Linked DNA regions of Homo sapiens. The protein of the gene in region 1 purifies or fractionates together with the protein of each later gene. This does not show direct contact. Each region holds a gene or a part of one and is shown in the gene's direction. Other genes may lie near its edges. The genes, in order: DBR1, CWF19L1 and MPLKIP.

Evidence for each region.
Region 2: the proteins of DBR1 (region 1) and CWF19L1 purify together in Homo sapiens (affinity purification with mass spectrometry; 3 studies listed by BioGRID and IntAct, with this or other methods). This does not show direct contact.
Region 3: the proteins of DBR1 (region 1) and MPLKIP purify together in Homo sapiens (affinity purification with mass spectrometry; 3 studies listed by BioGRID and IntAct, with this or other methods). This does not show direct contact.

Annotation. Positions count from the first base shown.
Region 1 is NC_000003.12:138,171,869-138,179,420, reverse strand, and holds the start of DBR1 (lariat debranching enzyme), read left to right. Parts: upstream 1-4,499; 5' UTR 4,500-4,625; coding exon 4,626-4,822; intron 4,823-5,794; coding exon 5,795-5,919; intron 5,920-7,552. UniProt on the Homo sapiens protein: Cleaves the 2'-5' phosphodiester linkage at the branch point of excised lariat intron RNA and converts them into linear molecules that can be subsequently degraded, thereby facilitating ribonucleotide turnover.
Region 2 is NC_000010.11:100,264,621-100,271,945, reverse strand, and holds the start of CWF19L1 (CWF19-like protein 1), read left to right. Parts: upstream 1-4,307; 5' UTR 4,308-4,352; coding exon 4,353-4,375; exon of another isoform or gene 4,376-4,420; intron 4,421-7,325.
Region 3 is NC_000007.14:40,131,526-40,138,949, reverse strand, and holds the start of MPLKIP (M-phase-specific PLK1-interacting protein), read left to right. Parts: upstream 1-4,327; 5' UTR 4,328-4,382; coding exon 4,383-4,721; intron 4,722-5,690; coding exon 5,691-5,891; 3' UTR 5,892-7,424. Other genes in the region: SUGCT (succinyl-CoA:glutarate CoA-transferase), read right to left, coding at 3,830-3,929. UniProt on the Homo sapiens protein: May play a role in maintenance of cell cycle integrity by regulating mitosis or cytokinesis.

The DNA of each region.
Region 1 (7,552 bases):
GTGGTTGTCATATGTGCATCATCACACTGTGCACTTAAAATGTTATTTATGTTACTTTAAGTAAGCTATACCTTAATTAAAATTTTTTACATGGAGAAAAAAGATCTAGAGGAAAACAATTCCCATAGATTAAAAATAAAATGCAAAAGTTAAATTTAACAATGTAAAAAGCATCCATTGTTCTATTATATTTCAACAAAATCTATACAGAAGGAAAATAAAATATTTAAAACTAATCAGAAATATTAGATTTCCATATTTTTCTACCTTCCTGATCAATTTAAATATCATGAAAATCATATCTTCCTTGTAAATTTGAAATAAATTGCTCCAACATCACTCTGGACACAATGTCTTCGTATCTTTGATAATCTTTACAGTGTCTCCTATTATCATTGTTCTGTTTACATGTACTGCTTCATTTTTAATTAATTTTGGTGTTTTTTCCTATAATATTCATTTTAATTAGTTTTTTTAAATGGGAAGAGATGGATTTATTGTTCTGTGTACTGCCTTGATTAGATTATCTTTTCTTGATTAAGTTTTCCAGAGGTGTTTTCTTTGCTTGTTTTTGTCTTGGTCACTTTTTCTTTCTTTCTTTCTTTCTTTTTTTCTTTTTTTTTGAGACAGAGTCTAGCTCTGTTGCCCAGGCTGGAGTATAGTGTCTGCAACCTCTGCCTCCCAAGTTCAAGCGATTCTTCTGCCTCAGCCTCCCGAGTAGCTGGGATTACAGGCACTCACCACCACGCGCAGCTAATTTTTTGTATTTTTAGTAGAGACAGGGTTTCACCATGTTGGCCAGGCTGGTCTGGAACTCCTGACCTCAAGTGATCCGCCTGCCTCGGCCTCCCAAAGTGCTGAGCTTACAGGTGTGAGCCACTCCGCCTAGCCCACTCATTCTTTATTTACCAGTTTGGTCATCTTCCTTTCTGAAAGTTTTAGAAATATTCACCTACTTTCATTTAGCTTGCATTCTAGTTAGGAAAACTATTTGTCAGGAAAATAAAAAGTCCTTGGCCACTTAAAGAAAAAAAAAACTGATAATTTTAGAAACTCTTAGAGGGAGGTCGTTTTTTTGTTTGTTTGTTTGTTTTGTTTTGTTTTTGTTTGTTTGTTTTGAGACGGAGTCTCGCTCTGTCTTTCCCAGGCTGGAGTGCAGTGGCGTGATCTCGGCTCACTGCAACCTCTCCCTCCTGGGTTCAAGCAATTCTCCTGCCTCAGCCTCCCCAATAGCTGGGAGGAGGAGTAGTAGTAGGCGTGCGCCACCACGCCCGGCTAATTTTTGTATTTTTAGTAGAGACGGGGTTTCACCCTATTGGCCAGGCTGGTCTTAAACTCTTGACCTCATGATCCGCCCACCTTGGCCTCCCAAAGTGCTGGGATTACAGGCGTGAGCCACCGCACCCGGCGGAGGGAGATAGTTTTTAAATCCTTGGTGGGTTTTAAAGTTTTATTTAAAAATAATTATTTTGGGGTGTCAAAATTTTTTTAAATTCTGATTCACTTTCAGGCAATTGTCTTTGCCTTGAGAAGTTCGTCCTAAGGAATTCGCCATTTGCGCCTGCTTGCTCGTTTATCTTAGTTTAATTTTATCAAACTAAATTCCTACTATTGGGGATTCTATTTACTATCCTAATTTAGAATTTTATCATCCGTGAGACTGCTAGGACTCAAGGACCTGTAAAGATAGGTGAAGACAGACCAAGCCCAAGAATCCTCTTTTCTTCTCTCTTTTTTTTTTTTTTTTTTGAGACAGGGTCTTGCTCTGTCCCCCAGGCTGGAGTGCAGTGGTGCAATCTCCGCTCACTGCAGCCTCTGTCTTCCAGGTTCAAGCAATTCTCCTGCCTCAGCCTCCCCAGTAGCTGGTACTACAGGCATGTGCCACAACGCCCTGCTAATTTTTGTATTTTTGGAGAGATACATGTTGGCCAGGCTGGTCTCGAACTCCTGGCCTCAAGTGATCTGCAAGGTACGGAGAGCATCAGGAAAAATAGCTAATGTATGCTGGGTTTAATACCTAGGTGATAGGTTGATAGGCGCAGTAAATCATCATGGCACACGTTTACCTGTGTAACAAATCTGCATAACCTGCACATGTATCCTGGAATATATATATATATATATATATACACACACACACACAAACGAGATATTTATTTATTTATTTATTCTTTTTGAGACAGGGTCTCACTCTGTAGCCCAGGCTGGAGTGCAGCAGCGCAATCTCGGCTCACTGCAACCTCCGCCTCCCGAGTTCAAACGATTCTCCCGCCTCAGCCTCCCAAGTAGCTGGGATTACAGGCATGCGCCACCACCCCCAGCTAAGTTCTTTATTTTTAGTAGAGACAGGGTTTCACCATGTTGGCCAGGCTGCTCTCGAACTCCTGGCTTCAAGAGATCCATCCACCTTGGCCTCCCAAAGTGCTGGGACAACAGGTGGGAGTCACCGCGGCCAAAAAACGAGATTTTTAAACTAAGAATCCAATGAAACAGAAACAGACAATAGAATCAGCTCTGCAGATAAGTAAGATATTGGGCTTAGAAGACAGGCAACCTAAAATAACAATGATTAATATATGAGAGAAAGAGAGGAAAAGATGAAGGAAATAAATTAAAAGATAAAGAATCTCTTTAAACTATTGGCTTCACTGGAAAAGAATCCAATATAAATCCTAAAATTGAAAAGGACTATAATGTTAAAACATTAATAAATGAGTTTGTACATTGGACATAGAACAAAATAGGATTAGTAAACTAGAAGAGAGGTTATTAGAAACTATCCAAAATAAAACACTGATAAAAATGAGAACTATGGAATAGAAATAAAAGATAGGTAAAATACCATGGAAAAATTCCAAAGGAGTAGGAAAAGACAGAAAAAAAAGCAACATTTAAGTAGATACTGACCAAGAATATTCCAAAACTGAAAAAAGATACCAAGCTATAGATTCAGAAAGCATAAATGAGTAAAGTTCAAAAAAAAAACCACCTAGATATATTTTATTAAAATAGCTTTAAGGAGTAGGGAGAGAAAGTAGAGAAAGAGAAAACAGTAAATAGCAAAGAAAAAGACACATTACTGGCTGGGCGCGGTGGCTAACGCCTGTAATCCTAGCACTTCGGGAAGCCGAGGTGGGCGTATCACTTGAGGTCAGGAGTTCGAAACCAGCTTGGCCACCATGGTGAAACCCTGTCTCTACTAAAAATGCAAAAAATTAGCTGGGCATGGTGGTGTGCACCTGTAATCCCAGCTACTTGGGAGGCTGAGGCAGGAGAATCGCTTGAACTGGGGAGGCGGAGGTTGCAGTGAGCCGAGATCGTGCCACTGCCTCCAGCCTGGGCAACAGAGTGAGAGACCGTCTCAAAAAAACAAAAAACAAACAAACAAACAAAAAACCCACATTACTTTCAGTGAAAAAAAACCTTAAGTTTATAGGTGACTTCTCAGTAGAAGATAATGCAAGCCAGAAGATAATAGAATGCTATTTTTGAAATGCTTTGTAAAAAAAAAACCACACACACACACACACACACACACACACACACACACTGCTTAACTGGTATTCGGTACTCAGTAAACACACCCTTTATGAATTAAGGTGAAACAAAGACATCTCTTTCTTTCTTTTTCTTTTTTTTTTTTTTAGACGGAGTCTCACCCTGTCACCCAGGCTGGAGTGCAATGGCACGATCTCAGATCACTGCAACCTCTGCCTCCTGGGTTCAAGCGATTCTCCTGCCCCAGCCTCCCAAGTAGCTGGGATTACAGGTGTGCGCCACCACGCCCAGCTAATTTTTTGTATCTTTAGTAGAGACAGGGTTTCACCATGTTGGCCATGCTGGTCTCAAACTCCTGACCTCGTGAGCCGCCCGCCTCTGCCTCCCAAAGTGCTGGGATTACAGGTGTGAGCCAGCACACTGGCTTCTTTTCTTTTCTTCTCTCTCTCTTTCTCTTTTGTCTCTTTTTTTTTTTTTTAGACGGAGTCTCGCTCTGTCGCCCAAGCTGGAGTGCAGGGGCGCGATCTCAGGTCACTGCAACCTCCGTCTCCTGGGTTTGAGGGATTCTCCTGCCTCAGCCTCTGAAGTAGCTGTGATTACAGACGTGCGCTACTGCGCCCAGCTAATTTTTGTATTTTTAGTAGAGACAGGGTTTCACCATTTTCCCCAGAGTGGAAAGAAATTTTTAAACAAACAAATATCTAGAAAAAAATTAATCTGTCGTCGGCCTACACTAAACAAACAGGAAAACTTAAACTGAGCTCTTCAGACAGAAGAAAAATGATTCCAAAGAGAAAAATGGAAATCCAGGAAGAAAAGAGTAAGGATGGAAAGAGTACATTTGTGGATGTATATACAAAAAAATATTGACTGCATAAAACAATAATTAAAAAAAAAGAAAAAAGGAAAAAAAGAAAATAAGTTCCCTGGGATCCCAGAATTAGGTTTGACCTTCCCGGTCCCTCTCTCGCGAGATCTGGAAACCGGAAGTGAATTATTTTGCAGGAGTCTACACCCAGGCGGTGGCTATACTTATTAAAGTTGGCGGGAGCTGAGCGATCAGTCGGTCCTGGGCTGGCTGTGGTGTAGGGCGTTGCAGGCAGCGCTCACCTCCTCAGGCCGGCAGAATGCGGGTGGCTGTGGCTGGCTGCTGCCACGGCGAGCTGGATAAGATCTATGAGACGCTGGCGCTGGCAGAGCGGCGCGGCCCGGGGCCTGTCGACCTCTTGCTGTGCTGCGGCGACTTCCAGGCGGTGCGCAACGAGGCGGATCTACGCTGCATGGCCGTGCCGCCCAAGTATCGTCACATGCAAACCTTCTACAGGTGAGGACGCGGCCGGGCCCGGACTTGGCGGTGGGGGGGTGGGACTGGGTTCCCTCTGCCACTGGCTGCCTGTTTCCCTTAGATCCTGTCTTTGTTCTCTCTGTATCTCTAATTGGTGCCTAACTGAATACAGGGGTGAGGTAGTGGGAGGCGGGAAATGTATTCAGTTCGGTACTGTATTCAGTTAGGTACCAAATTATGTCAGTTTCACTAGCACCCTATCTCATTAGGTGCTTAGGAAATGTCACTTTCCTTCTTTCCATACACATCTTATCCATTTCAAAGGGTGTCGAAGCCTGGGAGGGGATAACCTGGAGGAAGAAGCTGACAGGTTTAGATAGCTACCTTGTACTTGATAGGACTCTGGAATTAGTTCATTCAATGATCCTGAAGTTTTTACTGGGCCCCTGCTATGTGCTTGTTGTGGTTCTAGAAGATGAGGTTATGGCAATGAACTCGAAACAGTTCTTGACTTAATTGAACGGGCACTGACTTGAGGCTCAAGGTGGAAGCTCTTCATTCCTAAGGGCAAGGATGGATACTGGGCAATTCCTTTTTTTTTTTTTTTTTTTTTTCTTGAGACAGAGTTTCGCTTTGTTGCCCAGGCTGGAGTGCAGTACCGCGATATTGACCCACTGCAACCTCCGTCTCCTGGGTTCAAGCGATTCTCCCACCTCAGCCTCCCGAGTAGCTGGGATTACACCCAGCTAATTTTTGCATTTTTAGTAGAGACGGGGTTTCACCACATTGGCCAGGTTGGTCTCGAACTCCTGACCTCAGGGGATCCGCCTGTGTCGGCCATCAAAAGTGCTGGGATTACAGGAGGGAGCCACCGCGCCCAGCCCCAGGCAATTCCTTTTGAAAGAGCTTTTTAACTTTTTATGATGAACTCAGTTTCTTTTTTTTTTTCGGAACTTATTTGCTTTTCTGCTATGCCTAATTGTGGTAACTGACTTTGCTCTTATGTTCTAGGTATTACTCTGGAGAGAAAAAGGCTCCAGTTCTCACGCTCTTCATTGGGGGAAACCATGAAGCCTCAAATCATTTGCAAGAGTTACCCTATGGTGGCTGGGTGGCACCAAACATTTATTATTTAGGTATGTGATTGTGTTTGTGGATACTTTTTTTTCCTGGGATGGAAGAGCTTATCAGGATTTGCGTTAGTTGGACTGTGTCTTGACATGTATGGTGTTTGGAGAATGTCATTAATTTAAATACTTAATCGTGAAAATTTAATTAAGATAGTTAATTATTAAATGGTTGATCATGAAAATATGCCCTTCATCTAGTGTTTTAAGCACTAGCTAATATAATTGCAAAGACCTCACACACTATTTGTAGTCCCTTCATTTTTTCTTACAATTTTTATTGAATTAAAGACCTTAAACTTTTATTAATAGAAATTCTTAAGCATACACAAAAGTAGAGAATAGTATGATGAATCTCAGTACCTGTTAACCAGCTTCAACGACTATTATATTGCAATCTCCTGGATTTTTTTTTTTTTTTTTGTGGGAAGAGATGACTAGAGTATTTAAAGCAAGTCCAACCGTTAGATTATTTCACTTATACATATTTCAGTACATGTTTTTAAGTGATAAGGATCTTTAAAAATACTACTACAGTACTGTTATTATACTTAACTGAAGTAATCATTATCTATTGCCATGTTCGTGGTCAGATTTCCCTGCTTAATGTAAAGATGTCTGCTTTACAATTGGTTTAAATAGGACCCAGACAAGGCCAGCCCATTTCATTTGGTTGTCATGACTCTGAAGTCTATTAGACTAAAATAGTCTCCCTGTCTCGCTTTTTCATGCCATTTACTTGCTGAAGAAAACAGGAAATTTGTCTTGCAGCATTTCCTGCATTCAGGATTTAGCTGATTGGATTCCTTTTATCCTTTGCATTTCCTATAATCTGCTTTTAGATTTTCAGATTTGATTAGATTGTCTCAATATTGGCCCCTATAAACTATATAGCCTTTTCATCCCTTTATTTTTCGAGACAAGGTCTGGTTCTGTTGCCCAGGCTGGAGTGCAGTGGCCTGATCTCAGCTCATTGCAACCTTCGCCTTCCAGGCTCAAGCCATCCTCCCACCACAGCCTCCCAAGTAGCTGTGACTGCAAGCGTGTACCACCACGCCCGGCTAATTTTTTTGTTTTTTTGTATTTTTTTGTGGAGACTGAGTTTGGCCATGTTGTCCAGGCTGGTCTCGAACTCATGAGCTCAAAGTGATCCGCCCACCTGGGCCTCCAAAGTGGTGGGATTACAGGGATGAGCCACCGCACCCAGCTTCATCCCTTTATTTAAATGTATATTCTTTCTAGAACAGTTTATAGATTTTACCAATGATGAGATCATATTTCAGAAATTTAGTTTCCCTACTTTGCTACTTACTGATCATCTTTTGATGTATTCATCCTATATTACAATATTGTGAAGAAGTGAAATTGTCAGAAGATGATCAATCAGAAATGAAACTAGAAGCTGTAGGTTCTTTATACCTTATACCTGTTGATTTTCAGGTTTATACATGTAAATCCATCATAGGACATTTTCCACCTCCCACTACCTCACCCGTGTATTCAGTTAGGTACCAAATTATGTCTGTTTCACTTTCAGTACCCTATCTCATTTGTCCCTTCCAGAATCTACTTAGTGTTTTGGCTCATCTAATTCCAGACCTTACCTTTATATACTGTTATAATATATCCCTAATACACTGTT
Region 2 (7,325 bases), on another chromosome or scaffold:
AGTTGTTTGAGCTCCTTGTTATATTTATTCTGGTTATTAATCTCTTGTCAGATGGATAGTTTGCAAATATTTTCTTCCATTCTGTGGGTTGCCTCTTCACTTTGTTGATTGTTTCCTTTGCTGTGCAGAGCTTTTTAGTTTGATATAATCCTATTAGTCTATTTTTGCTTTTGTTGCCTGTGCTTTTGAAGTCTTATACAAAAAATTTTTGCCCAGATCAATATCTTGGAACATTTCTCCAGTATTTTCTTCTGGTAGCTTCATAGTTTCATGTGTTAGGTTTAAGTCTTTATCCATTTTGATGCGATTTTTGTATATGGTGAGAGATAGAGTTGAGTTTCATTCTTCAGTATAGGGCTATCCAGTTCTCCAAGAATCATTTATTGAAGAGACTGTCCTTTCCTCATTGAATGTTCTTGGCACCTTTGTACTTTTGGTATTGACATAAAATGAGTTGGCTGTAAATGCATGGATTTATATATGTTCCATTGGTCTATGTGTCTATTTTTATGTCAGTACCATACTGATTGGGTTACCATAGCTTTGTAGTAGATTTTGAGGTTGGGCAGTATGATGCCTTCAGCTTTGTGCTTTTTGCTCAGGATTGCTTTGGCTCTTTGGGGTCTTTTGTGGTTCCATATAGATTTTAGGATTGTTTTTTCTATTTCTATTTCTGTAGAGCAGCAGTCCCTAATCTTTTTGGCACCAGGGACCGCTTTTATGGAAGACAATTTTTCCGTGGACGCGGGGGGATTTTTTTTTTTAATGGTATGAACCATATTTATTGAAAACATTATTTCTGGCCTTTCTCAAATTGAAGACTGCAAAAAATAAAAGCAGTGCTTTATTGAGTTGTCATTAACCTTGAGAGCAGTGGCGCTGCCTCTCCACGCTCTGGGGACGGTGGAAACCGTGGCTGGTGCGTGCCACATCTATCACACCTCGGTCTACAAAACAGTCCTGACGTCAAATAAAACTATTGTGGCCGGGCGCGGTGGCTCACGTCTGTAATCCCAGCACTTTGGGATGCCGAGGCGGGCGGATCACGAGGTCAAGGAAATCGAGACCATCCTGGCTAACACGGTGAAAACTCGTCTCTACTAAAAATACAAAAACAAAATTAGCCAGGCATGGTGGCGGGTGCCTGTAGTCCCAGCTACTCTGGAGGCTGAGGCAGGAGAATGGCGTGAACCCGGGAGGCGGAGCTTGCAGTGAGCGTAGATCGCGCCACTGCACTGCAGCCTGGGCGACAGAGCGAGACTCAGTCTCAAACAAAAACAAAAACAAAACAAAACAAAACAAAAAAAACAAACGCTCGTACATGACATTTACATTAGAAAAAGAGAGCTGAAAGTAGGGATGGGGGGATGGTTTGGGGATGAAACTGTTCCACCTCAGATCATCAGGCATCAGATTCTTGTAAGGTACGCAGCGCCGTAGAACCCTCGCATGTGCAGTTCACAATAGGGTTCCAGCCTCTGTAAGAATCTGATGCCACCACTAATCTGATAGGAAGTGAGCTCAGGCGGTTATTCTCACTTGCCCACCGCTCGCCTCCTGCTGTGCGTCCTGGTTTCTGATGGGTACTGGTCCATAGCCCGGGGGTTGGGGATCCTTGCTCTATCTAGAGAATGCCATTTGTATTTTGATGGGGATTGGACTGAATCTGTAAATTGCTTTAGGTAGTGTTGTCTTTTTTCTTTCTTTCTTTTTTTTTTTTTTGAGACGGAGTCTCGCTCTGTTGCCCAGGCTAGAGGCTGGAGTGCAGTGGCTGGATCTCCGCTCACTGCAAGCTCTGCCTCGCGGGTTCATGCCATTCTGCTGCCTCAGCCTTCCGAGTACCTGGGACTACAGGCGCCCGCTACCACGCCTGGCTAATTTTTTTGTATTTTTAGGAGAGACGGGGTTTCACCGTGTTAGCCAGGAAGGTCTCGATCTCCTGACCTCGTGATCTGCCCGCCTAATTCTTCTAATCCATAAGCGTGGAATATCTTTCCTTTTTGTGTGTGTGTCCTCTTTCATCAGTATTGTATAGTTTTCCTTGTATAGATCTTTCATTTCTTTAGTTAAATTGATTCCTACGTAGTTTATATTCTTTGTAGCTGTTGTAAATGAGATTGCTTTTTTGATTTCTTTTTCAGATTGTTTACTGTTGGTGCATATAAATGCTACTGATTTTTGTATGTTGATTTGGTATCCTGAAACTTTTACTGAATTCGTTTATTATTTCTAACAGTCTTTTTCGTGGAGTCTTTTGATTTTTCAATACGATGAGTTTTTATGTCTTACTTTTGTATCCTCTTCTGGGAATTATTACCTGCTCATGTTTGGCAAACTTCTACTCTTCTTCAAGATTCAGTCTTGAGTGCTACTCCTGGGCAGTGCTGTATTATCCAAAGAGTAGGAAAAAATGCATGCTTATGTGCCAGCAAAGCAGAGCCACCAGTTATGAGGCAAGAAACAAACAAAAAAGAAGGCTTGTAGGCTGTGGGAAAAGCCAGAACTTTGTAGTTTTGTTTGGTTATTGAGACAGGGCTTGCTGTGTCACCCAGGCTGGAGTGCAGTGGCAAGGTAATAGCTCGCTGAAGCCTCCATCTCCTGGGCTCAAGTGATCTCCCCACCTCAGCCTCTGGAGTACCTGGGAGTACAGGCATACGGCCACCATGCCCAGCTAACTTTTTTTTTTTTCTTTTTAAATTTGTAGTAGAGACGAGGTCTGGCTATGTTGCCCAGGTTGGCCTTGAACTCCTGTTCTCAAGTGAACCTCCCGCCTCAGCCTCCCAAAGTGCTGGGATTACAGGCATGAGCCACTGTGCCTGGCCTGTAGTTCTTCTTTAATCTTATGTTTTATTAATTTTGAATTATTTAGATGCCCTTGATGAGTCTTCCTTTCCCCGCAGTCGTCAGGAACTCTCTCTTGTTTCCATTTCCTTACACACTTGTTTCCTACCACTTGGCCTGAACCCTTCAAAAAAGTCAATATTACAAAAACTAAAACCAAATAGGTAGGAGGGCTTTTGTAGATTAAAATAGAGACAGAACCAAATGCAAGTGTGAAACTTGATTGCATCTGAATCAAAACAAGCCCCAAATATAAAATCAGTTTGTAGGGAAATATGGAGAACTTTAAATATGGATGTATATTAGGTAATATTATTGAATAATTAATGTTAATTTTCTTAGCTGTGTTAATAGTATTACGGTTATGTAGGAGGATATCCTAATCTTAGGAGATAAATGGAGATGTATTCCTGTTGTCCGCACTTTATTTTATTTTATTTTTTGACACGGAGTCTCGCTCTGTCGCCCAGGCTGGAGTGAAGTGGCGCGATCTCGGCTCACTGCAACTTCCTCCTCCTGGGTTCAAGCGATTCCCCTGCCTCAGCCTCCCGAGTAACTGGGACTGCAGGTGCGTGCCACCACGCCCGGCTAATTTTTTGTATTTTTAGTAGAGAGGGGGTTTCACCGTGTTAGCCAGGATGGTCTGGATCTCCCAAAGTGCTGGGATTACAGGCGTGAGCCACTGCGCCCGGCCTGTACTTTACTTTCAAATGATTGAGTGAGAATGGAAGGGCTTGGGCACTTTGAGAGAAAGAGAACACAAGCAAATTTGCCAACATGCTGAGACTTACTGAATCAAGGTAATAGCCATTATTCTTTTAACTTTTTTTTTTTTAATTTGAGACGGAGTTTCGCTCTTGTTGTCCAGGCTGGAGTGCAATGGCGCGATCTTGACTCACTGCAACCCCCGCCTCCCTGGTTGAAGCAATTCTCCACCATGCCCGGCTAATTTTTGTATTTTTAGAAGAGACGGGGTTTCACCATGTTGCCCAGGCTGGTCTTGAACGCCCGACCTCAAGTGATCCGCCCGCCTCAGCCTTCCAAAGTGCTGGGATTATAGGCGTGAGCGTCCACGCCCGGCCTCTTAACTTTTTGATAGGTTAAAAACTTACAAAAAACGTGGATAGAGGGGGTCTGTCTTGCCCACTAGACCGATATGGTTAGGTTAGGTTAGGTTAGGTTAGGTTAGGTTAGAACCCGACATTGTGCTCTGTACTTCCTAGCCATTCATTCGCTTCAAGTGCTCTGAAATTTAATTTAAAAAATCATAGTTGGAATCCTTTCGGTCACTTTCTCTTTCTCCCTTCGTTCCTCCCTTTCCCTCTTGATTCTTCCTTGAGGCGCAAACACCTGAGAGAGGCTTCTGTCCCTCGGCGGTCTCCGTAAGTAAGTGAACCGTTATTGGCTGGAGGGCGCTGACGTCTGATTGTTGCGCGGTCGCATTTTTCCGGGGAGCGCGGATTCGCATTCCCAATTTTAGGTGGCAGTCGCAACCCATACTATTCGGACAGATGGCACAGAAACCGCTGCGCCTGTGAGTGACCGTGAATGGAAGCCTCTCTCCCTGTGTCTCTTTCGTGTGTGTAGGTGACGACACGGGCGGGAGTCTTTCCCATGACGGGAAGGGAGAAGGAAAAGGCGGAGAGACACGGGGCTGCTGGGGAGCTTAGGTGATGTCTTTGCCTGGCCGGGGCTGACCTCTTTTCCTGGCCCTTTTCGCTTCTGAGGGGGTTTCTCTTGGCGACGCTCGTTCGGAGAGGCGGAAGCTCCCAGAGTTAGGCCTCCTCCATCTTAGGGGGCAGTCCTGGCCTCTGACACATCCTTTCCCCTTCGTTTCTCCTGACCCCATTTATTTACTCGCCAAATAGCCATTGGGCCCACTGATGGGCCCTGGGCAGTGGTGGACAGAGTAGATAGGGACCCTTCCCTGGGGCATTTTTTTTTTTTTTTTTTTTTTGCGAGGAGGAGGGGTGGGGGTGGTGGTGAAGAGAGGGCTTCATGCAGCAAGTATTTATTGAAGAACTGCAGTGTGCCGGACGCTGTGCTAGGTGTTGCAACAGATGGAGTTCCTGCTTTAATGGAGCGTAGAGTCTAGAGGAACAGGTACTAAAGAATCCAGATAATGGGCCGGGCGCGGTGGCTGAGGCAGGAGAATCGCTTGAACCCGGGAGGCGGAGGTTGCTGTGAGCCGAGATCGCGCCACTGCACTCCAGCCTGGGCGACAGAACGAGACTCTCAAAACAAAACAAAACAAAACAAAACAAACAAAAAACAATACAAATAATGGCCGGGCGCGGTGGCTCACGCCTGTAATCCTAGCACTTTGGGAGGCTGAGGCGGGCGGATCACTTGCGGTCAGGAGTTCGAGACCAGCCTGGCCAACGTGGTGACACCCCGTCTCTACTAATACAAAAAAAAAAAATTAGCCAGGCGTGGTGGCGCGTGCCTGTAATCCCAGCTACTTGGGAGGCTGAGGCAGGAGAATCGCTTGAACCCGGAGGCGGAGGTTGCACAGTGAGCCGACACTGCACCTCTGCACTCCAGCCTAGGTAACAGAGTGAGACTCCGTCTAAAAAAAAAGGAATTCAGATAAATGTAAAGTTACCATAGTGATAGGGCCAGGCGCAGTGGCTCACGCCTATAATCCCAGCGACTCCGGAGGCCAAGGCAAGAGAATCACTTGAGTCCAGGAATTCAAGACCAGCCTGGGCAATATAGCAAGGCCCCGTTTCTACAAAAAATACAGAAAAAAAAAAAAATTAGCCGGGCGTGGTGGTCCCAGCTAATTGGGAGGCTGAAGCAGGTGGACCACCTGAGCCTGGGGAGGTCGATGCTGCAGTGAGCTGTGATCGTGCTGCTGATCTCCAGGCTGGGTGACAGATTGAAACCCTGTCTCAAAAAAAAAAAAAAAAAAATTGCAATAGTGGTAACTTTTGGGAAGAAAATATTCGTGAATCTGGGAGAGTGCATAAGAGGGGTATTTGGCTTAATGATAGGAGTCAAGAAGGCTTCCCGAGAATGTTAGGATTGAGCCTTGGGAAATAAGAGTAATCCATTGCTTAACAGCAGGGTTATGTTCTGAGAAATGAGTTGGTAGGCGATTTCGTCATTGTGCGAACATCTTTGAGTGTACTTCCAGAGACCTAGATGGTATGGCTTCCTGTACACCTAGGCTAAATGGTATAGCTGTACGTCAAGTTACTGTACTGAATACTGTAGGCAATTGTAACACAATGGTAAGCATTTTTGTATTTAAATATAGAAAGGGTACAGTGAAAACACCTGGCCGGGTGTGGTGGCTTATGCCTGTAATCCCAACACTTTGGGAGGCCGAGGTGGGTGGATCACCTGAGGTCAGAAGTTCAAGACCAGCCTGGCCAACATGGTGAAACCCTGTGTCTACTAAACATACAAAAATTAGCCGGGTGTGGTAGCGGGCGCCTGTAATCCCAGCTACTCAAGAGGTTGAGGCAGGAGAATGGCTTGAGCCTGGGAGGCAGAGGTTGCAGTGAGCCGAGATCGCACCACTGCACTCCAGCCTGGGCGACAGAGCGAGACTGTCTCAAAAAAAAAAAAAAAGAAAAAGAAAAAAAGAAAATACTGTATACAGGAAAAAAAAAAAGGGCACAACCTGTGTAGGACACTTATCATGAATGGAGTTTGCAGAACTGAAAGTTTCTCTGAGTGAGTTAGTAAGAGGTGAGTGAATGTATTACTTTACAGTATTGTAGACTTTATGAATACTGTACACTTCACCTATATTAAATTTATTAAAATATTATTTTCAACAGTAAACCTTAGTTTACTGTAACTTTTACTTTATAAACTTTAAGTTTTTTTACACTTTTTGACTCTTGTTATAACACAGCTAAGACATAAAACACATTGTACAGCTGTACAAAAATATTTTCTTTATATCCTTATTCTACAAGCTTTTTTCTATTACTTTTTTTTTCTTTTTACCTTTTAAACTTTTTTTTTTTTTGGAGACAGGGTCTCACTGTCGCCCAGGCTGGAGTGCAATTGTGCAATCACGGCTCACTGCAACCTCAACCTCCTGGGCTCAAGTGATTCTCCCACTTCAGCCTCCTGAGTAGCTGGGACTACAGGCGGAAGCTACCACACCTGGCTAATTTCTGTATTTTTTGTAGAGAGGGGGTTTTGCTATGTTACCCAGGCTGGTCTTGAACTCCTGGGCTCAAGTTACCCTCCTGCCTCAGCCTCCCAAAGTGCTGGGATTACAGACGTGAGCCACTGTGCCTGGCTTTAAACTTGTTTTGTTGCAAACTAAGACACACACACGAGTCTAGGCCTACACAGGGTCAGGATCATCAGTATCACTGCTGTTCACCTCCATATCTTGTCCCACTGGAAGGGCTTCAGTAGTAATAACATGCATGAAGCTGTCATCTCCTATGATAACAGTGCCCTCTGGAATACTTCCTGAAGGACCTGCCTGAGGCTTTTTTACAGTCAACTTTTTT
Region 3 (7,424 bases), on another chromosome or scaffold:
TTGGCAGTATGCTGTAATCATTTTAAATTCATAACCAGAAAATGAGTTGAACAAAAAATTCAAGACTCTAGGGAAACAAAAATAGTTTGTATATTGCTAGAATTGTCTATTAAGAGTCATGTTTTCATGCCTTTTAATCTTCCCTGAAAATTTCTGTGTACTGCCATGAGTAAAATTTTTAAAAAATGTTCAACATCACCAATCATCAGAGAAATACAAATTAAAAACCACAATGAGATATCATCTTACACACAACAGAATGGCTATTAAAAAGACAAAAAAAATCACAGGATGTTGGTGAGGAAGCTGAGAAAAGGGAACTCTTCTTATACACTGTTGGTGGGAATGTAAATCAGTGCACCTTCTATGGAAAACAGTATGGAGATTTCTCACAGAACTAAAAATAGAACTACCGGAAGATGCAGCAATCCCACTACTGTGCATCTACCCAAAGGAAAAGAAATCATTACATCAAAAAGACACCTGCACTCATATGTTTATCACGGCACTATTCATAAAAGCAAAGATATGAAATCAACCTAAGTGCCCATCAATGGAGCACTAAATAAACAAAATATGGCATATATACAAAATGGAATACTATTCAGCCATAAAAAAGAATGAAATTATGTCTTTTGCAGCAACATGGATAGAACTGGGGGCCATTATCTTAAGTGAAATCACTCAGGCACAGAAAAACAAATATTGCCTGTTCTCCCTTATAAGTTGGTGGTAAATAATGCGTACATATGGAAGCAGAGTGTGGAGTGATGGGCAATGGAGACTTGGAGGGTTGGGGATGTAGAGGGAAGGGGATGGACTACAGGAGGTTGCTTGCTGGGTACAATGTGTCTTGTGCCAGTGATGGATGCACTGAAGGCCCTGACTTCACCCCAATACAATATATCAATGTAGCAAAACTGCACTTGTACCCCCATGAATATATGCCAAAACAAAATCATAACTGGCTGGGGCACAGGGGGCTCATGCCTGTAATCCCAGCACTTTGAGAGGCCCAGGTGGCTGGATTCTGTGAGCTGAGGAGTTCAAGACCAGTGTGGGCAACATGGCAAAACCCCATGTCTTCAAAAAATACAAAAATTAGCCAGGCATGGTGGCACACACTTCTGGTTTCAGCTACTTGGGAGGCTGAGGTGGAAGGATTGCTTGAGCCCAGAGAGGCAGAGGTTGCAGTGAACTGGGATTGCGCCACTGCACTCCAGCCTGGATGAAAGAGCAAGACATGTCTCAATACTTAAATAAATAAAAAATATATAGAGAGAGTATACTGCTATACGACAGAAAAACACAACTCAAACTTTTTTATTGGTCACTTTTATCTTGCTACAAAATGTACTACTAGAAGCTTAAAAAGAGCATGGCTTTTGAATTTTAATAAATTTTAGTGAACTTTAGTTAGATTGAAGTTATACAGATAAATGGGTTGATGGAATAAAGATCTATATACTCATTAGGCGTCCATCAGTTAAACTGTTTACTATTAAATTAATTTGTTGGTTGGGCATGGTGGCTCACCACACCATTTAATTGCAGAGTTTTGGGAGGCCAAGGCAGGAGAGAGGAATGCTTGAGGTGGGGAGTTCTGGGAAACACAGCAAGACCCTGTCTCTACAAAAAATAAAGAAATAAAAAAATTAGCCAGGCATGGTAGCATGAGCCTGTACTCCCAGCTACTTGGGAGACTGACGTGGGAAGATCACTTGAGCCCAGGAGGTCGAGGATGCAGTGATCTGTGATCTCACCACCGCACTCCAGCCTCGGTGACAGAGTGAGACCACCCCATGTCCATAATAATAATAATAAAGTTAATTTTGGTCCCCACCACTCTCACTTTTCTGCCCCCTCCCCTGAGTAGACTGGCTGATGATCTAAAAGGTGAAAATTACCTATGTGATGTATGTGAACCTTTTTTTTTTCCAGTGGGGTGGGGGGGCATGATAGGGTCTCGCTCTGTTACCCAGGCTGGAGTGCAGTGGCACAATAGCGGATCACTGCAGCTTCAACCTCCTAGGACTCAAGCCATCCCACCTCAGCCTCCCAAGCAACTGGGACTACAGGCGCACGCCACCAAGCCCGGCTAATTTTTTTTGTATTTTTGGTAGAAATGGGGCTTCACGATGTTGCCCAGGCTGGTCTTCAACTCCTGGGCTCAAGCAATCGTCCCACCTAGGTCATTTTATTCAATAAATATTCAAATGAGCAATTCCCAAGCATTAAGTTAAACACTAAAGACAATGTCCAGAAAGGTGAATTTTTGGCCAGGACAGAACTACTGTATTTAATAAAGTGGATAGGCTGGAGTCCTCCGACCTTAATTGTATCACTAAGCCTTAATGGCAACGTGCTACCTTGATTAAGTCTATCACTTGTATCTACAGAAGAAACGAAATGTAGTGAATTGAATTTCCACAGAATAAACAAACAAAAAAACTGTCTGTGTGTGTCTCCATTCATCAAGGAGGATAGAAGCTGAGAAGATACCACACTCGTCAGCTTGGGATGTCACAGAACATGTCAAAGAGACAGCGAGGAGTAGCAGCTACAAGAGGGTGAATGGAAATCACAGGTCCAGGCTACCCGTTAGGCTATGATTTAATGAGTCCTAAAGCTCTTTTAAGATTCTGTATCCTACGCCAGGCGCGGTGGCTCACGCATGAAATCCCAGCACTTCGGGAGGCAGAGGCAGGCGGATCACTTGAGCCCAGGAATTTGAGACCAGCCTGGCCAACATGGTGAAACCCGTCTTTACTAAAAATACAAAAAAATTAGCCGGGCATGTGGCACATGCCTGTAATCTCGGCTACTCTAGAAAGCTGAGGCAAGAGAATCGCTTGAACCCGCGAGGCAGAGGTTGTGGTGAACCAAGATCGCGCCACTGCACTCCAGCCTGGGCGACAGAGCGAGACTGTCTCAAAAAAAAAAAAAAAAATCCTGCATCCTGCAACTAATTTCAAGATTCATAGTGGGCCGCGCGCATAATCATAGAGATTACGTCTGTAATCTCAACACTTTGGGAGGCCGAGGCGGGAGGATAACTTGAGGTCAGGAATTCGAGACCAGCCTGGCCAATATGGCGAAACCCCGTCTCTACTAAAAATACAAAAATTAGTTGGGCGTGGTGGCGCATGCCTATAATCCCAGCTACTCGGAAGGCTGAAGCAGGAAAATCTCCTGAACACGGGAGGAGGAGGTTGCAGTGAGCCGAGATCGCGCCACTGCAGTCCAGCCTGGGCGAGACAGCGAGACTCCGTCTCAAAAAAAAGAGAAAAAAAGAAAAAAGGAAAAAAAAGATTCATAGTGGATTACCATTCCCAAATTCAGAGGGAGTAAAGAAAGTTCTATAACACTGTAGTAAAGCTAAATTTCATCCTCTAAATAAAATTCTGCAACAGGTAACTGTACAAGGGCATCTTTTATTGTACATGAAGTGTCAAGTTATTCAAAGCAGCGGGCTAAAGTCCTTTCTGAAATGTGGCTTGGTGTGCATTTTCGAAGTTACTTAAACTTGGCGGACGAAAGGACAGGAGTAAAGAGGCCCCAAACGCGAGCCGCGGGACGCGCAGGAGCGGGACCCCACGGCGCACGGAGCCCTCGGTCACAACAACGCACGGGACAGAGGCGACCCTGGGCGGCCAGAGCGGGGCAGGCCGGCCGCAGGCCCACGGAACGGGGTTGCAGGGAGGCGAGCAAAGCCACCGCTAAGGGGTCAGCAGAGACTTCAGACCCTAATTGCTCTCCTCAGGGCGCCCGAGGAGGCAAGCTGGGGCAGGGATCCCTTTAGCCACCCAGACCGAATCTCGGAGGGTACCTGACTGCGGGCGGCCAGTCCACAGCCCCCTCCCGCCGCCCCGGCCGGAGAAGAGGCAGGTTCTGCGCAGAGCTGCCACCCTCGCCAGCGTCGCCAGCATCGCGTGCGTCTCAGATGGCATCGGTCCCGGTGCAAGCGGCGAACTCCGTGCGGCGCCACCCGCCGCCACTGGGGGGCGCCCACGGACGCCGCAGACCCCGCCCCCGCCGGGCGGGGCTGAGCACTAGTCGCCTGCTGGGCCAGCTTCTAGTCTGTCGGTCAGACCAAGGGCACTCAGACTGGAAAGGTTGTTGCTGGGCTTGGGTGTCCGTCCTTTCCTGTCTCCTTTTCTTCCTCTTTTCACTTAAATCCACTGAGTCTCTCGCCAAGTCAGTGATTTAGGTAATCCCGCCGCCCCTGGCGGAACCTTTGTGACGCCGGAACTGATGTGCCGTAGGGTGGCTGCGGTCGGAGGACTGTTTTGGTAAAGGACTAGCAGTTCTCTGCGGAGGGCCGGTTGATACAGTTCCGGTGGGAGAACGCGGCTGCGAGGTTTTCGGCTTTGGCTCCTGATATGCAGCGACAGAATTTTCGGCCCCCAACTCCTCCTTACCCTGGTCCGGGTGGAGGAGGTTGGGGTAGCGGAAGCAGCTTCCGGGGAACCCCGGGCGGGGGCGGACCACGGCCGCCCTCCCCTCGAGACGGGTACGGGAGTCCGCACCACACGCCGCCGTACGGGCCCCGGTCTAGGCCGTACGGGAGCAGTCACTCTCCGCGACACGGCGGCAGCTTCCCGGGGGGCCGGTTCGGGTCTCCGTCCCCTGGCGGCTACCCTGGCTCCTACTCCAGGTCCCCCGCGGGGTCCCAGCAGCAATTCGGCTACTCCCCAGGGCAGCAGCAGACCCACCCCCAGGTAATAATAATAGCCAGCGTTTGCCGAGCTCTTACTTTATGGCAGGCACGGTACTAATATTCCCTTTACGTGGATTATTTTGTCTAATCCTCTCTGAGGTACTATTGTTAGCCCAATTTTGCAGATGAGCGAACTGAGGCTTAGAGAAGTTGAGTGACTTCCGGAAGATTATCCGAAAGAGTGGCAGAGCCGTACGTTCTGTTTTCGAGCCCTCGTGCTTTTAACCAATACACTGCCACCCGTACACAGATTTTCCTAATTCTCCATTTCCTCCTGTTTGCCAAAGGCCTTGCCAGTTTGTTTCAAGAAATAGTTCTTTTTCTTTTTTTTTTTTTTTTTTTTATCTTTCTTTCGAGCTACACTGGCTTCTGCTCCAACTTCCCTGAAAAGAAAATCGGTGGTAGTGGAAGTTTTCCATTCCTTTAGTGAGAGTAAATACAAAAGACAGAGAGAGTATCTCTAGCATGTCTGGGATTTCTGTGGTTTACAACTTGCAACTACGTGGTTTTCCAACTTGCTGTATTCTACACCAACCCCCTACCCCTTTTGAGCCTGGAGCTAAGGAGTAAAGAAAATGTTCATGAGCTAGAAAGGTTCTAGAAACTTTAAAACTATAGTATTGTTTTCTCCTGAAAAAAGTGAAAATTTCGAGGGAAAATTGAATATAATTACTTGATTTCATCACTGCTTGTATTTAATTACTGCAAAGTTACTACATTAGACACAAAAGTATTTGAGATGACAGTGGTCATGGAATTATAAATAAATGAGAATAACGAATTGCTTTAAGTACTTTTTTTAAAAAATAGGAACACTTGATTAAAGGAAGCATGGACTTTGTAATTGAACATTATTTAGGTTCAAGTCACAACTTTTAAGCAGCAATGTGATTCCCGCTAACCTTTAGCTAAAGGAAGAAGTACCAATTATCTTTACTAAGTGTTTTTTTAACTGATTTTTTTTCTAAAGGGTTCTCCAAGGACATCTACACCATTTGGATCAGGGCGTGTTAGAGAAAAAAGAATGTCTAATGAGTTGGAAAATTATTTCAAGCCTTCAATGCTTGAAGATCCTTGGGCTGGCCTAGAACCAGTATCTGTAGTGGATATAAGCCAACAATACAGCAATACTCAAACATTCACAGGCAAAAAAGGAAGATACTTTTGTTAACATTTCTGAAATTCAACTGGAAGCTTCATGTGTCAGGAACATCTTGGACAAAACTTTAAGTTGTGTTGATATAAATTTACCCAAAGATGATGACTTTGATTGGATAATTAGTAAGGTCTTTTTGTTATTTTTCATCGTATCAGGTATTGTTGATATTAGAGAAAAAAGTAGGATAACTTGCAACATTTAGCTCTGGAAGTACCTACCACATTTTAGAGATTTACCGTTTCCATATATTTAACATTCCTGGTTACATAATGGACATTTGTCTTTTAATGTTTTTTCAATGTTTTAAAATAAAACATTTTGTCTTCTAGCTATTGTGGTTTTGTGGTATGATAAAGAAGTAGACTTACTACAGTAATGCTTTGTAGTCACTTAGAGTTCATAGGTAAATGTTTTGCAAATTATTTTTGAAAATGAAATAGGTAAACCATCCTTTGAGCTGTAGACAGCTCTGTATTTGTTCGTAAATAATGAGGATGAGAATAACAGAGTTCTGTTCATACTCATTTTATCTAATGCTTCTGTTAAAATGCATTAAAACTTGAAGCCCCAGAAACCCATTTAAGCATAACTTTATACTCATTTAACTGGAAAAGGCAAGAATAGACCATGCATTGCTAAATCAAAGTGTTCTATCTGAATTTCTCTATACCTCTTAGCATTATGGAGTTAGTTTCTCTTGAGGCCAAAGAAGATAGCTACCAGCAGCCTCAAATCACTTCCATTGCAAAAAGAACATCTCTCATCTCCATCAATCCAAGAGAAGACAAATTTGCCATACTTAGATCATGTTTCTGTATTATTGAACCAATTAACTGTGGCCAAGGCCACAGTGAGACCTAATTAACTTGAATCATGGACACATCACCATAATGAGACAGGATTCTGTGACCTTGAACACCACTGGGCCTACCTGGAGTAGAGAAGTGGTTTTCCAAATTAAGGGATGCTATGGATATATACCTATAGTTCTGGAGAGAAAAATATGGAAGAATTGTTACCCCAACTATTTTTTAAAAATCAAGTGGTTTTTTGTTTGTTTTTTGAGATGGAGTCTGTTGCCCAAGCTGGAGTGCAGTGGTGCAATCTTGGCTCACTGCAACCTTCGGCTCCTGAGTAGCTGGGACTACAGGCACATGTCACCATGCCTGGCTAATTTTTGTATTTTTAGTAGAGACCATGTTTTGTTTTTTTTGTTTGTTTTGTTTTGTTTTTGAAATAGGGTCTCACTCTGTTGCCCACGCTGGAGTGCAGTGGCGCAATCTTGGCTCACTGCAACGTCCGCCTCCCAGGTTCATACGAGTCTCCCGCCTCGACCTCCTGAGTAGCTGGGAATACAGGCACGCGCCTGGCTCATTTTTGTATTTTGAATAGAGATGGGGTTTCACCGTGTTGGCCAGGCTGGTCTCGATTGAACTCCTGGTCTCAAGTGATCCCCTACCTTGGCTTCCCAAAGTGCTGGGATTTCAGGCATGAGCCACCGTGCCCAGCCCAGAACATGTATTTTTAGTATTTTTAGTATTTTTA